Linked DNA regions of Homo sapiens: regions 1 and 3 are each linked to region 2. Evidence: fine-mapped expression QTL. A gene starts in region 2. Each other region holds a variant in brackets. All regions are shown on one strand. Distances are between the middles of the regions.

Region 1 (4,175 bases), 92 kb before region 2:
GTGGGTAGGTGTGTATGTGCTTGGGACAAAAGGCTACAAAAAGATAGTGAAGAATGTCTGTACCACCCATATCCCCCAGTTCCTCTCCCAGAGCAGACCCTGCCTGCAGACCCTGGGGCTTCTCCCAGCTCACCCGCCCACTCACGTGGAGCCCTGGCGGGATTCGCTCCACTGCCCTGTGTCTTGATTTTCCCACTTATAGTAAATCTTGGAGCTTGTCCATGTCTGTACTTCGGAGCTGCCTCCCGCAGTCCATCATATAGATAGACCAGAATTAATAGGTGCCATCCTTTTGGTGGGTGACATTCAGGCTGTTCCTAATCTTTTGCCGTTACAAACAGTGCCACAGTGGATTTACACAGTTTAGCATGTACGGTGCAAGTGTATACAGTTGGCACGATAACGTGCAAATATATCTTGAAAATTGCTGAAAAGGGAGGAGCTTAAAAAAAAAAAGAAATTGCTGGCTGGGCGCGGCGGCTCACACCTGTAATCCCAGCACTTTGGGAGGCTGAGGTGGGCGGATCACGAGGTCAGGAGTTGGAGACCAGCCTGACCAACATGGTGAAACCCTGTCTCTACTAAAAATACAAAAATTAGCCAGGCGTGGTGGCGTGCGCCTGTAATCCCAGCTACTCAGGAGGCTGAGGCAGGAGAATCACTTGAACCTGGGAGGTGGAGGTTGCAGTGAGCTGAGATTGCGCCACTGCATTCCAGCCTGGGTGACAGAGCTAGACTCCGTCTCAAAAAAAAAAAAAAGAAATTGCTGAGTAGATTTTAAGTGTTCTTACCACAACAAAACAAGTATGTGAAGTAATGCATATGCTAATTGCACTGTCAATTTAGCCATTTCACATTGAATGCATATTTAATTTTGTTTTATTTTAATTTAATTTTACTTTATTTTATGTTTTATTTTATTTTGAGACAGGATCTCGAAGCTCCGTCACCCAGGCTGAAGTGCAGTGGCACGATCACAGCTCACTGCAGCCTTGACCTCCTGGGTTCAAGTGATCCTGCCACCTCAGCCTCCTGAGTAGCTGGGACTGTAGGCATGCACCACCATGCCCAGCTAATGTTTTGCATTTTTTGTAGAGATGGGGTTTCACCTTGTTGCCCAGGCTGGTCTCAAACTCCTAGGCTCAAGTGATTCACCTGCCTCAGCCTCCCAAAGTGGTGGGATTGCAGGCATGAGCCACTGCACCCAGCCTCAGTGTATACATATTTCAAAACAACATGTTGGACATGATAAATATATACAATTTTTCTTTATCAATGTAAAAAAATAAATGAAATAGAGACTAATCCAAAAAATGTGCAGATGTAACTCTAAGATGCATTCCTAGAGGTGGAATTTTGGAATCAAAAGGAGCGGCGGTCTTTTTATTATGTTAGCTGGTGCCAAAAATGCCACTGTAGAAGGCATGCCTGTTTACATGCCCACCATCTCATTATGATTCTAATTTTCATTCCTCATGGTTAGTGTGGTTGAGCATCTTTTCATGTATACCTTTTTAAAGTATTTCCTTTTCTGGAGGTATTTGACTGTTTTGAAATACTGTTGGTAACTACATGGGCTACTTTTAGCAAAATCAGTGAGTCATTTTTTTATAAGGAGCCCCGTGTGGATTCCCATGGTTCCCACTGACTGGGTCTTTCTTTCCATCTGTGACATAAGCCCAGAAATAACTGTCTCTGAGTAATAGTTTGGCTTGAGGAGCTGGTTAGCTGATAACTTAATTGCTAGAGCTGGTCTGCAGTGCCAGCTGTTGTCCACAGGCATGCAGGACACTTGTGCAATGCCAAGATGTTTGAAAAGAGGAACAGGGCAGGGCGAGGGGTGGGGTCTTCAGGTCAGAAGTTGCTTTCTAGCCCTTTATGACCCCAGTTGTCATCCCGTTGGTTTAACATTTCTCTTTAGAAAACTGTAGCCTGAAGAAACATTACCTTTGCCCTTCTGAACCACAGAATGACAAGATGCATTGTCACGGTCAAAGCCTTGCTTATAAATGTTTGACCTCATCACATTTGGGTGGAGTCTGTTGGCATTTTGCCTCAAGAAAATTCAGTGCAAGTAATGTTTGCCACGCCAACTCCGTCTGATTTATAGACATATTGTATGAGACTTTCTAGCCTGACTTATACACAAAGCCCACTTGAAAAATGAGGAATGGACAATTTCCATGTGCGTGACACGGGATTCCTGGATCTGTTCATCCTAATATATAATAATATCAGAAGGTTAGATGGGGTGACTTCTTAAGCATCCTTGGAAGTCATACATTCCACAACCCTTCCTCAGATAGTTTCTTTCAGTATAGAGTTGTTTGGAATTGGATGACAATAAGTTAAACTTTGGGGCAACTAATTACACCTATAGAAACATTCAAGGACCTTCAAATTGGCCCAAATGCTATATAGCACATGAATCCAGTAGAAGGGATGTAATAAAATGAAACTTACTGTTTGATAATTGTGTCATTTAGAGTTGTTCATTCAGTATTCCTGTAGCCATCTGAAGGGTCTACTGTAGCCATCTGAAGGGTCATCTTAGGCTGGCACTGTAACTAGTTC[G/A]TGTCTGTACTATACAGACGCTGAGCTAAATCGATTTTCCTGGGAATCTGGCTTTTTATTTCAAAGAAGCTTACTGTTTGGAACCACCCTATATAGCTAAAATTTAAGATCTAGAAAGAATCCTTTTTGATCATCTGACTCACAGGTATAGAAACTGAGGCCCAGCAGAATGAAATTGTTAAGCCAGGCTCCAGGACTTACAGGATTTTCTTGGTAGGTTTTTTTACCAACTTCCCTCTCCAGCAAAGAGCCTAAAATGACTGATAATACCATGTTGCTGTCTTTCTCCAGGGCTCAGCCTTCTTTAAATGGGCCTGCTTCTTCATCTGGTATTTAATCTGAGATGGAAAGTGAGATGCGAAACCCAATTTTCCCTTTCACTTGGTCACATGCCCAGAAGCAGCAGCGTTCAGTGGGCCGAGTACTGGCGTGGAACCTTCCTCTGTTCCCATGTCTGTGGCGTGGCACGAACCTGTGATGTGGGGCTCTCCCGCCCTTGCCCTGGAGGGGCCTTCAGGGACATGTGGCTCACCCATCTGTTATTGTCACATATCCCCCAGAGGAAGGAGGGACAGGCTGTGAGGTTAGCTTGTTTATTTTATGAGGAAACAGGCACAGAAAAATTAATTTACAGAGTCTTGGACAAAATCCCAAAGGAAGGAGGAGTGGGAAGAGCAGAGAGCGGATAAACAGCACAACGCCATCCCTGGACACGCCTAGTTCTTGCTTTTATTTAAATTTTGGTAGGTTCTGTGGCCACACCCACTTTAGGCTAGGTACTGGGAGACAACCTCTGGGGTTTTCTGGTAACCAGTTACATTCTCCAAGAGGTGGCCATTACCAGCTGAAAGGTTCGAGGTGAACTCACATCCAGCCTCTCCAAAAGGAGCTTGGGAACCTGTGTTCCCTCCGGGCAGTCTCCCAGACCGGGTTTGGTATCAGCCCCTCCCTGCCACTGCCCTGCATCTGGTCAGCTGGGGAAAAGGGGGCAGGGAGGAGAGAAGGCCAGTGGAGCAGAGCCATTCATTCTGTGGCTTATTTTGTCATCAGCAGGTCCCATTGCTCCCGCTGATTGGGGACTGCCTCTTCCTCGGGGGTGTAGTTGCTGAGATACTGCTTCCCCCTCAGGGTGGTGCTCGGCACACCCACCATAGCCTCTGGCAGGGAAATGCTGGAATCCAGACCTTCACCAGAAGCACCATTGTAGAAGAAAAAGAACAACCTCCTCAATAATAATGCAAGTGGGCCAATAATTTTTACAATATGCATATTTGTTTTCTTGATATAAAAATAATATATATTCATTGTAGAACACTTAGGAAACCACAAATCAAAAAGGAGAAAATAAAGTACACTCACCTCTGATTCTACCATCCTGGTACACATATGGTGCAGCGCAGCGGGTGAAAGCACAGGCTCTAGGATCCGAGTCCCTGGGTTTGAATCCGGGCTCCCCTGAGAAACAGCTGTGTGCCTTGGGTCGGATACTTAACCTCTCTGAGTCTTTTTTCCTCCCCTGTAAAATGGGGGTAATAAAAGTACCTACTTCATGGGATTGTTGCAAGGATTACAAGATTGTAGTGATATGGAGCTCACAGGGC
Region 2 (4,175 bases):
CACGTAGCAGTCAGAGGGGGTCACTGCGGGAAGGAACAAGTGCCCAGCGGTGGACAAGAGCCCTTCCCAGCCGCCCAGACCCACTTCCTTCCATCACCTAGAGCCCCATGTGGGTTAAGACTGAGGGGGAGGGGAAGTGGGGGCCAGAGGCAGAGCCCCAGCTGCCACCTTCCACCCAGAAGCTCCTCTCAGCTCCCTCCTCTAGGCCCTGCCCACCGGCCCACCCGCCTCCACCAAATCCAGCCACAGCACCCTCCTCCTCAGCACCCTCCTCCTCCCTCAGCCCAGCACAGGGGCCAGGGCGGTGCGCACTCACCTAGGTCCTTAGAGGGTAGGCGATGGGCCTGCAGGACACGAACCGTGAGCAGGCAGGTCCTGGACACCTCTGCCTGCAGAGGTGGGAGAGGGGAGACCTGCTACGGGCCGATGAAGCCAAGGGTGACAGGGGCCACAAAGGAGGCTGGAGCAGTGCCTCAAGGCCTAATCCTGAACCCCAGGCCCATCCTCCATCTCATCAGAATCCTGAATCAACAAGAGGAGACATGATATCTCCATCATGACGCCTGCCAGCACTTACACAATGCTCTGCGCCGGCTCTGGGCCAAGGGCTTTGCATACATTAACTCATTTATCGCACAACCACCTTATGCACAGATACTATTTACGATGGCCCACTCCACAAGGAAACTGAGGCACAGAGAAGCAGTCACTTGCCTGAGGTCCACAATTGGGGTTGGAGCCCGGGCAGGCTGGCTCCAGATTTATGCCTCACACAGACCTGCTTCCACCTTCTCGGGCTAGTATCCTTTAGGCTCTCCACCCCACATCCCCAGCCCACACCCCAGCTAAGCAGCTTTCCGGCTGGTCTTGGGTGGCAGGGGACATAAGCTATCGAGGGAGGGGAAGTAGCACATCAGGGCCTTGGGCCCCAGGCTGAGCTGCTCTCGTACCCTCCCTCCACCCTGGTCAGAAGAGCATCCTGGAAATGGGCTCTCTCCTGGGCAGGGGAGGCGGCTCCTAGCTCAGACCCCTCACAGGCTGTCATGTCCTCCAGGTCCTGCCAGGTCAGGCTGAAGATGGTCCCCCGGTAGCTCCCTCCAAACCCATGCCCCTGGTTCTGGGAATGCAGCCTGGCAGGCGCACCGGGACCAGGGAAGCCTGTGCCAACTGCTTCCTTTCGGCCTTCCACCTGCCTCCACAAGGACCCTAACAGGTCAAGTCCAGGGAGCAACCAGGTCCAGGGCAGTGCTGGAGGGCCTCATCCACCAGGGTCAGCCCAGGGCCCTCACACTCCAGGCAACTGAGTCAGAGGAGCATGGAGGAGCCACTTGCTTCCAGGGCCTCAGGGCGGCAGCTGGGAGCCTCTGAGTCTCCAGGGCCCAAATCTGTGGTGCCAGGGAGCTCTGCCAGGAGCCCGTTCCCAGGACAGAAAACACTCAGGACGGATCCCTCATCCCCAAGCCTCCTCCTCCCCTGGCTTCTGCCCGCTACCCTGGTCTTGTGGTCAATAAACTCCCCTCCCTACCCCTGGAGAAGACCACAGCTCCCATAAGAAACATATTAACTAGGCCCCAGGTAGAGACCAGGGGTCCCAGTAGGGACCCAGGGCCCTGCCAGGCCTTACCACAGCCATGAGACTGAGTCCTCAGGAGCAGGAATGATGGGGCAGTGGCCACAGGATCAAGGACTGTCAGCTTTCTAACCCAGAGCCAGGGATGTGATGTCCCAATTGGTCCCAAGTCCCTCCTACCCGCCGCCTCTGCTCCACCTAAGCTCCACACCCACTCCTGAACCAGCCACCTGTCCAGGAAATGAGGCACCCTAAGCCTATACTAGAGCTCCTGATACCTCTGTGGCACTCGCCAGCCTTTACCAGCTGGGCCTGCCCCACCCAGCCCTGCAATCCCAGCCTGGAGAGCTTGCTGCCAGGGGCTGAGCAGAAGGAAAGCAGGGGTGAGTCCCAGAACAGCAGCCAAGGGAAGAGTGGAGTTCCCTGTCACAGGCCTTTCGCAACTCTGGCACCTGTTGGACAGGAATGCCCAGTCTTGATGGCAGGGATCCATCAATCTGAGATGAACACCCGGGCCCCCTCACGACAGGCAGGGGAGTGGCTGTCACATAAAACAGCCCTTCAAAGCTAGGTGCTGAGTGGCCAGGGATGAGGCCTGTGGGTTGGCACTCAGGGGCAGGGGGTTCTTCTGCCTCCAGGGCATGGTTTGTGGGGGGGTCAGCGTGTGGAGACCAACTCTTTCCTCAGAGGGACAGCCCCAGGAGAGGCGGGGGCTTCCGTCCCTTCCTGCCTGTGCCTGTTATGGGAGAAACAGGGGTTATCCCCAGGGCACCAGGTCCCACCTGCTGCCCCTGAACTGGGGGAGGACAGTAACCATAGGAGAGCTAGGAATAGCTCTCAAGGTCCTGGGCAAAGAGGTCCGGACCAGAGAGCTACAAGACTCAGGTCTGCTTGCTTGTCCCAGGGAGGGGCTGCGGTGACTCTCATGGACAGCGGGACTTGGGCAGCTGACGGCTCTTTGGGCCCAGGCTGGGATCCAGCCCTCACCCCCAGTGAAGGTCACCCTGAAGTTTTTACCTGAACCTTCAGGCCCTCCTTAGACCACAGAAGGCAACTTCAAGAGGGAGGATCAGAACATACGACTCATAAGCCAGGCGCAGCAGCTCACACCTGTAATCCCAGCACTTTTGGGAGGCCGAGGCAGGTGGATCACGAGGTCAGGAGATCAAGACCATACTGGCTAACACGGTGAAACCCCGTCTCTACTAAAAATACAAAAAAATTAGCCGGGCATGGTGGCACGCACCTGTAGTCCCAGCTACTTGGGAGGCTGAGGCAGAATAGTGTGAACCTGGGAGGCGGAGCTTGCAGTGAGCTGACATCACACCACTGCACTCCAGCCTGGGTGACAGAGCGAGACCCCATCTTAAAAAAAAAAAAAAAAGGACATACGACTCACAGCTACCTTTTATTCAACATGTCCTGTGTGCCAGCTCCATGCTGGTCCTCATAGACATCATCTCCAAGCCCACAACAGCCCCGCGAGGTACAGCCATTATTATCTCTTTACTGACAGGACACCAATGCCCGAGACGCAGTGACTCGCCCAACATCACAGCGCTGGGGAGAGGTGCCGCTGCACCTGATCCCCACTCTGCTCACCTGTGTGGCAACTTCCTGAGAACCCTCACCCAGACCTGCCTGGCACCTTGAGTCCTTATGACCACATTCCAAGATCCTCCAAAGCTGATCTCAAGCCATGCTGGACCCGGGGCCAGCAGCCAGCATGCACACTCCAGGCTCTCTCGAGAATTGACCTGGCCAGGGAGGGGCTGGCTCCGTCCCCCGAGGCGTGCTTGGTGGTGTTCACCAGTGCTCCATCAGTCAAGGCCTGAAGCCTTGGTGAGGGAGTCGAGCAGCTGGAAGTAACTATACTTGAGGTCGTATTCCATGTCATACCAGAAATTCACTGTGGGAAGAACGGGGATCTGAGCATGAAGATCCCTCTTCTGACCTAGAGCCTCCCAAGCCTCCCCCCAGAGGCCCTGCTGGACCTTGACAGGGCCTCTCCCCAGGCGGCCTGGGCAACTCTTCACCTGCGATGCAGCCCTGGGACTGCTGGACGTGGTGGAACCACAGAGCCGGCAGATAGAGCATCTCACCGGCCCGCACCGTGCAGCGAAGGGCCTGGGCCTGACTGTAACTAGGGTACCGTGCTAGGTCTGGCGCCAAGGGGTCCAGTGGGATCCAGGGCACCTGGGAACACATCAGATGCCAGGGAGCAGCCCCCCAGACCCCCCAGGACTTCAGGCTCTGTCCCTTCCAAAGGTCAACACCACAGGCCCTGCTTGGCTCAGCAGTGAAAGGCCTCAGACTTAGAGACTTTTCAGAGCAAGGTGCCACCTCCCCAGATCTTTTGTGCCTGTTCTTCAGAGCCAGGCTTCTGCCCTTCTCCCTCCCTAGAGCCCAAGAACAGGACAGACACCTTCTCCATGGCCTCTTCATCCACCACCTTAAAGGTGCCCTCTTCAGTTAGCTGGTAGGTTGCCGGCGTGTACAGCTCTGGAGCCCAAGGGAGAAGGGTGTGGGGGAATTGCAAACAGCCTGGAACTTGCCAGACCCTCCTCCACCCCAGCCAGCCCTGGGCAGGGGCAAGGGGATCAGG
Region 3 (4,175 bases), 220 kb after region 2:
TCTTTGGATTGTCATAATGATTCTCAGATCAAAATATTTAGAACACCTGTCATAATCCCTGATAAATATGATGAACTCTATGAATGTGAGTGCTCGTTAGTGGTAAGGTTGCATTCAAACTAGCACCCTGTACTCTGTGCAATACAGCACATTGTTGAATCTTTTTTCTCCACTATTCTGTTTCTCCCCTAGACAGTGCTAGAGGAACACTAACAGATTCGTGTACCACAGATCTTTTTTGGAATCCTTGGTGACTACTGCCCATCTGTTGGTATATATATTTACATTGTCTCCCACCTTCATTTCATTTTTTTTCTTAACATGTTAAAATGCTGAGCTGTAGACATTATTGCAGTAAAATAATGCTGATAGACGATTAGAGAGGGCACCTGTGCCTGAACTTCAAGGAGACTAAAAATTTTTATATGAATATCTCAAAGTAAAGACACCTCAAAACTCGCTCTTCACTTATATAACAATATTTCGGATGCTGTCTTCCTGGCCTCCTTCCAGTGGTTCCATAGAACCTCTACTAGCTTCATCATTTACCCTTAAAAAAGGGAGGGATTCGCTTAGGCAGAACTTCCCATAGACATCTGAAACTCAGCATTTCCAAAGCCAAGCTAATTATCCGTCCCTTCACCACTACACACAAGTACTACAGCATTCCTCTACATGGGTAGTATCACCACCATTCCAGTAACTTTGCCAGGCTACAAAACCTGTGTGAACCCGGGAGGCGGACCTTGCAGTGAGCTGAGATGGTGCCACTGCACTCCAGCCTGGGCGACAGAGCGAGACTCCATCTCAAAATAAATAAATAAATAAATAAATAAATAAATAAATAAATAAATAAAATAAATAAAAATTAAAAAATCTGTGTATGGTGTGAGGTAGGGGTTGAGATTCATTTATTTCATAATGATGTCAAGTTGATCCAACACTGTTTGTTGAACATTATTTTCCCTCTTTGAAGTACCTTGACATCTGTATTAGTTGTCTGTTACTGTATAACAAATTACCTCTAAAATTTAGCAGCTTAAAACAACAAATACTTATTACCTCATTGTTTTTGTGGTTAAGGAATCTGGGCACAGCATACCAGGTTGCCAGTGGCTCAGAGTGTCTCAAGAGGTTCCAGTCAAGCTGTTGGCCAGGGTTGTAGTCTCAACTGAAGGCTTGACTCAACGTGAGGGGAGTCTGCTTCCAAGCTCCTTTGTGCTTCTTGGCAGGCCTTGGTTCCCTGCCCCATAGGCCTCTCCACAGGCCTACCTTACAACATGGCAGCTAGCTTTACTGATAGTAAACAATCCAAGAGAGATACAGTTACCCCAAAATGTAAGCCATAGTCTCTTTTAAACCTAACTCTAGTAGTGACATCCTCTGACACCTATCAGCCCACACTCAAGAGAGATTACATATGGATGTGAATACCTGGAGGTAGGAATCATGATATTCAATGCCACGTAATCTCTATTGAGTGTGACCTGATAGATTAGGGTCCATCATTAGAGGCTGGTCCATCATAACACCTTTGTCAAAAATCAATTGTCTATATATGTTTGGGTCTATTTCTAGGTTGTATTCTGTTCAACTGACCTAATTTGTCCATTTACTACTGCTATGCTGCCTTAATTTCTGTAACTATAATATGTCTTGAGGTCGGTAGTATAGGTCCTTCAACTTATCTTTTTCAAAACTGTTTTGGCTATTCCAGGCTGCAATGCAGTGGCATGAACATGGCTCACTGCAGCCTGGACCTTGCAGGCTGAAGGAATCCTTCCACCTCAGCCTCCCAAGTAGCTAGGGTTATGCACCACCACACCTGGCTAATTTTTGAAGTTTTTTTATGGAGACAGGAGTCTCACCATGTTGCCCAGGCTAGTCTCAAACTCCTAGGCTCAAGCAATCCTCCTGCCTTGACCTTCTAAATTGCTGAGATTACAGGCGTGAGCCACTGCACTTGGCCCTTGCATTTTCATGTAAATTTTAGAATTGGCTCATCAACTTCTATGAAAATTAGGATTTTTAGTGGAATGGCATTGGATCTATAGATCAATTCATGAATAATTAATATTTTAATATTGAGACTTCTGAGTCATTAACATGTAGTCACAATACATATATCTAACAAAGGACAAAAATCCACAATATATTAAGAACCCTGTAATAGGCCAGGTGCGGTGGCTCACACCTGTAATCCCAGCAATTTGGG[A/G]GGCCGAGGCAGGTGGTCACCTGAGGTCAGGAGTTCGAGACCAGCCTGGCCAACATGGTGAAATCCCCTCTCTACTAAAAATACAGGAAAATGGCCAGGTGCAGTGGCTCACGCCTATAATCCCAGCACTTTGGGAGGCCGAGGCAGGTGGATCTCCTGAGGTCAGGAGTTCAAGACCAGTCTGGCCAACCTGGTGAAACCCGGTCTCTACTAAAAATACAAAAATTAGCTGGGCATGTTGGCAAGCACCTGTAATCCCAGCTACTCTGGAGGCTGAGGCAGGAGAATCTCTTGAACCCGGGAGGCGGAGGTTGCAGTGAGCCAAGATTGCGCCATTGCACTCCAGCCTGGGGGACAAGAGTGAGACTTCCTCTAAAACAAAAAAAAAAAACAACAACAACAACAAGAAAAACTAGCCGGGCGTGGTGGCAGGAGCCTATAATCCCAGTTACAAGAGAGGCTGAGCAGGAGAATCACTCAAACCTGGGAGGCAGAGGTTGCAATGATCTGAGATCGTGCCACTGCACTCCAGCCTGGGCGACAGTGAGACTCTGTCTTAAAAAAAATAAATAAATAAAAAACCCTGTAATAATAATAAAACAAAAATCCAATTTTTTTTTTTTTTTTGGAGACAGGGTTTCACTCTGTCACCCAGGCTGGAGGGCAGTTGCAAGATCACAGCTGCTTAGCTCACTGCAGCCTCAACCTCCTGGGCTCAAGTAATCCTCCCACCTCAGCCTCCCACTTACTAGGGAGTAAGTGGGACTACAGGCATGCAGCACCACCCCGGCTAATTTTTTGTATTTTTTGTAGAGATAGGGTTTGGCCATGTTGCCCAGGCTGACCAATATATTTTTCTCATTTTTTTTTCTTTTTTTCAGACAGATTCTTGCTCTGTCACCCAGGCTGGAGTGCAGTGGCACAATCTCGGCTTACTGCAACCTCTGCTTCCCAGATTCAAGCGATTCTCCTGCCTCAGCCTCCCTAGTAGCTGGGATTACAGGCTCCTGCTACCACGCCTGGCTAATTTTTGTATTTTTAGTAGAGACAGGGGTTTCACCTTGTTGGTCAGGCTGGTCTCGAACTCCTGCCTTCAGGTTGATCCACCTGTCTCTGCCTCCCAAAGTTCTGAGATTATAGGCATGAGCCACCACACCCAGCCCACAGGCCTTTTTTTCTTTTTCTTTTTCTTTTTTTTTTTCAGATGGAGTCTCGCTCTGTCACCCATGCTGGAGTGCAGTGGTGCGATCTCAGCTCACTGCAACCTCTGCCTCCTGGGTTCAAGAGATTCTCCTGCCTCAGCCTCCTGAGTAGCTGGGACTACAGGCGTGTGCCACTCCACCTGGCTAATTTTTTGTATTTTTAGTAGAGACAGGGTTTCACCATGTTAGCCAGGATGGTTTTGATCTCCTGACCTGATGATCCACCTGCCTCGGCCTCCCAAAGTTCTGGGATTACAGGCATGAGTCACTGCGCCTGGCCCCCTTTTTGTCTTATTATATATTTTGCTCTACGTATTCAGAGAAACTTCTCTAGTAACAAACTATAGAAATGATTCCTGAAAGTGTAGTCTTGGCCAATATATATATTTTTTTAAAGAATTCAATTGGCTTTATTGCAGTTTTGTTTTTTGAGTTTTTTGGTTTTGTTTTTTTTTTTTTTGAGAGACGGAATTTCGTTCTTGTTGCCCAGGCTGGAGTGCAATGGCACGATCTCAGCTCACCGCAATCTCCACTTCCGAGGTTCAAGCGATTCTCCTGCTTCAGCCTCCCTAGTAGCTGGGATTACAGGCATGTGCCACCACGCCAGGCTAATTTTATATTTTTAGTAGAGACAGGGTTTCTCCATGTTGGTCAGGCTGGTCTCGAACTCCTGATCTCAGGTGATCCGCCCGCTTCGGCCTCCCAAAGTGCTGGGATTACAGGCATGAGCCACCATGCCCAGCCTGTTGCAGTTCTAG

What was found. PIP is the estimated chance that this variant, and not a neighbour inherited with it, causes the effect.
Region 1: its variant is fine-mapped to the expression of PLA2G4B in whole blood (TOPMed, PIP 0.97).
Region 3: its variant is fine-mapped to the expression of PLA2G4B in thyroid (GTEx, PIP above 0.99).

The regions. Positions count from the first base shown.
Region 1 is chr15:41,928,265-41,932,439 of GRCh38, reverse strand. All of the region lies in intron 3 of EHD4 (EH domain containing 4), which reads left to right. EHD4-AS1 (EHD4 antisense RNA 1) reads right to left here. Exons shown (of 4, transcript NR_120332.1): 3 at 3,934-4,090; 4 at 3,154-3,758. Among named protein-coding and RNA genes, the nearest start is that of EHD4-AS1, 8.9 kb to the right of the region's middle. RefSeq lists enhancers at 2,831-2,960, 2,981-3,060, 3,023-3,526. The variant G/A (reference allele first, on the strand shown) is at 2,575.
Region 2 is chr15:41,836,372-41,840,546 of GRCh38, reverse strand. It overlaps PLA2G4B (phospholipase A2 group IVB), which reads right to left and starts at 1,700. Exons shown (of 20, transcript NM_001114633.2): 1 at 1,625-1,700; 2 at 317-389; 3 at 1-23. The coding sequence starts at 1,633. It overlaps JMJD7-PLA2G4B (JMJD7-PLA2G4B readthrough), which reads right to left. Exons shown (of 25, transcript NM_005090.4): 6 at 3,996-4,072; 7 at 317-389; 8 at 1-23. It overlaps JMJD7 (jumonji domain containing 7), which reads right to left. Exons shown (of 8, transcript NM_001114632.2): 6 at 3,996-4,072; 7 at 3,607-3,766; 8 at 2,966-3,479. The coding sequence ends at 3,391.
Region 3 is chr15:41,614,846-41,619,020 of GRCh38, reverse strand. All of the region lies in intron 1 of LOC105370791 (a long non-coding RNA gene), which reads left to right. It also overlaps the pseudogene LOC124903614. Among named protein-coding and RNA genes, the nearest start is that of MGA, 43 kb to the left of the region's middle. The variant A/G (reference allele first, on the strand shown) is at 2,216.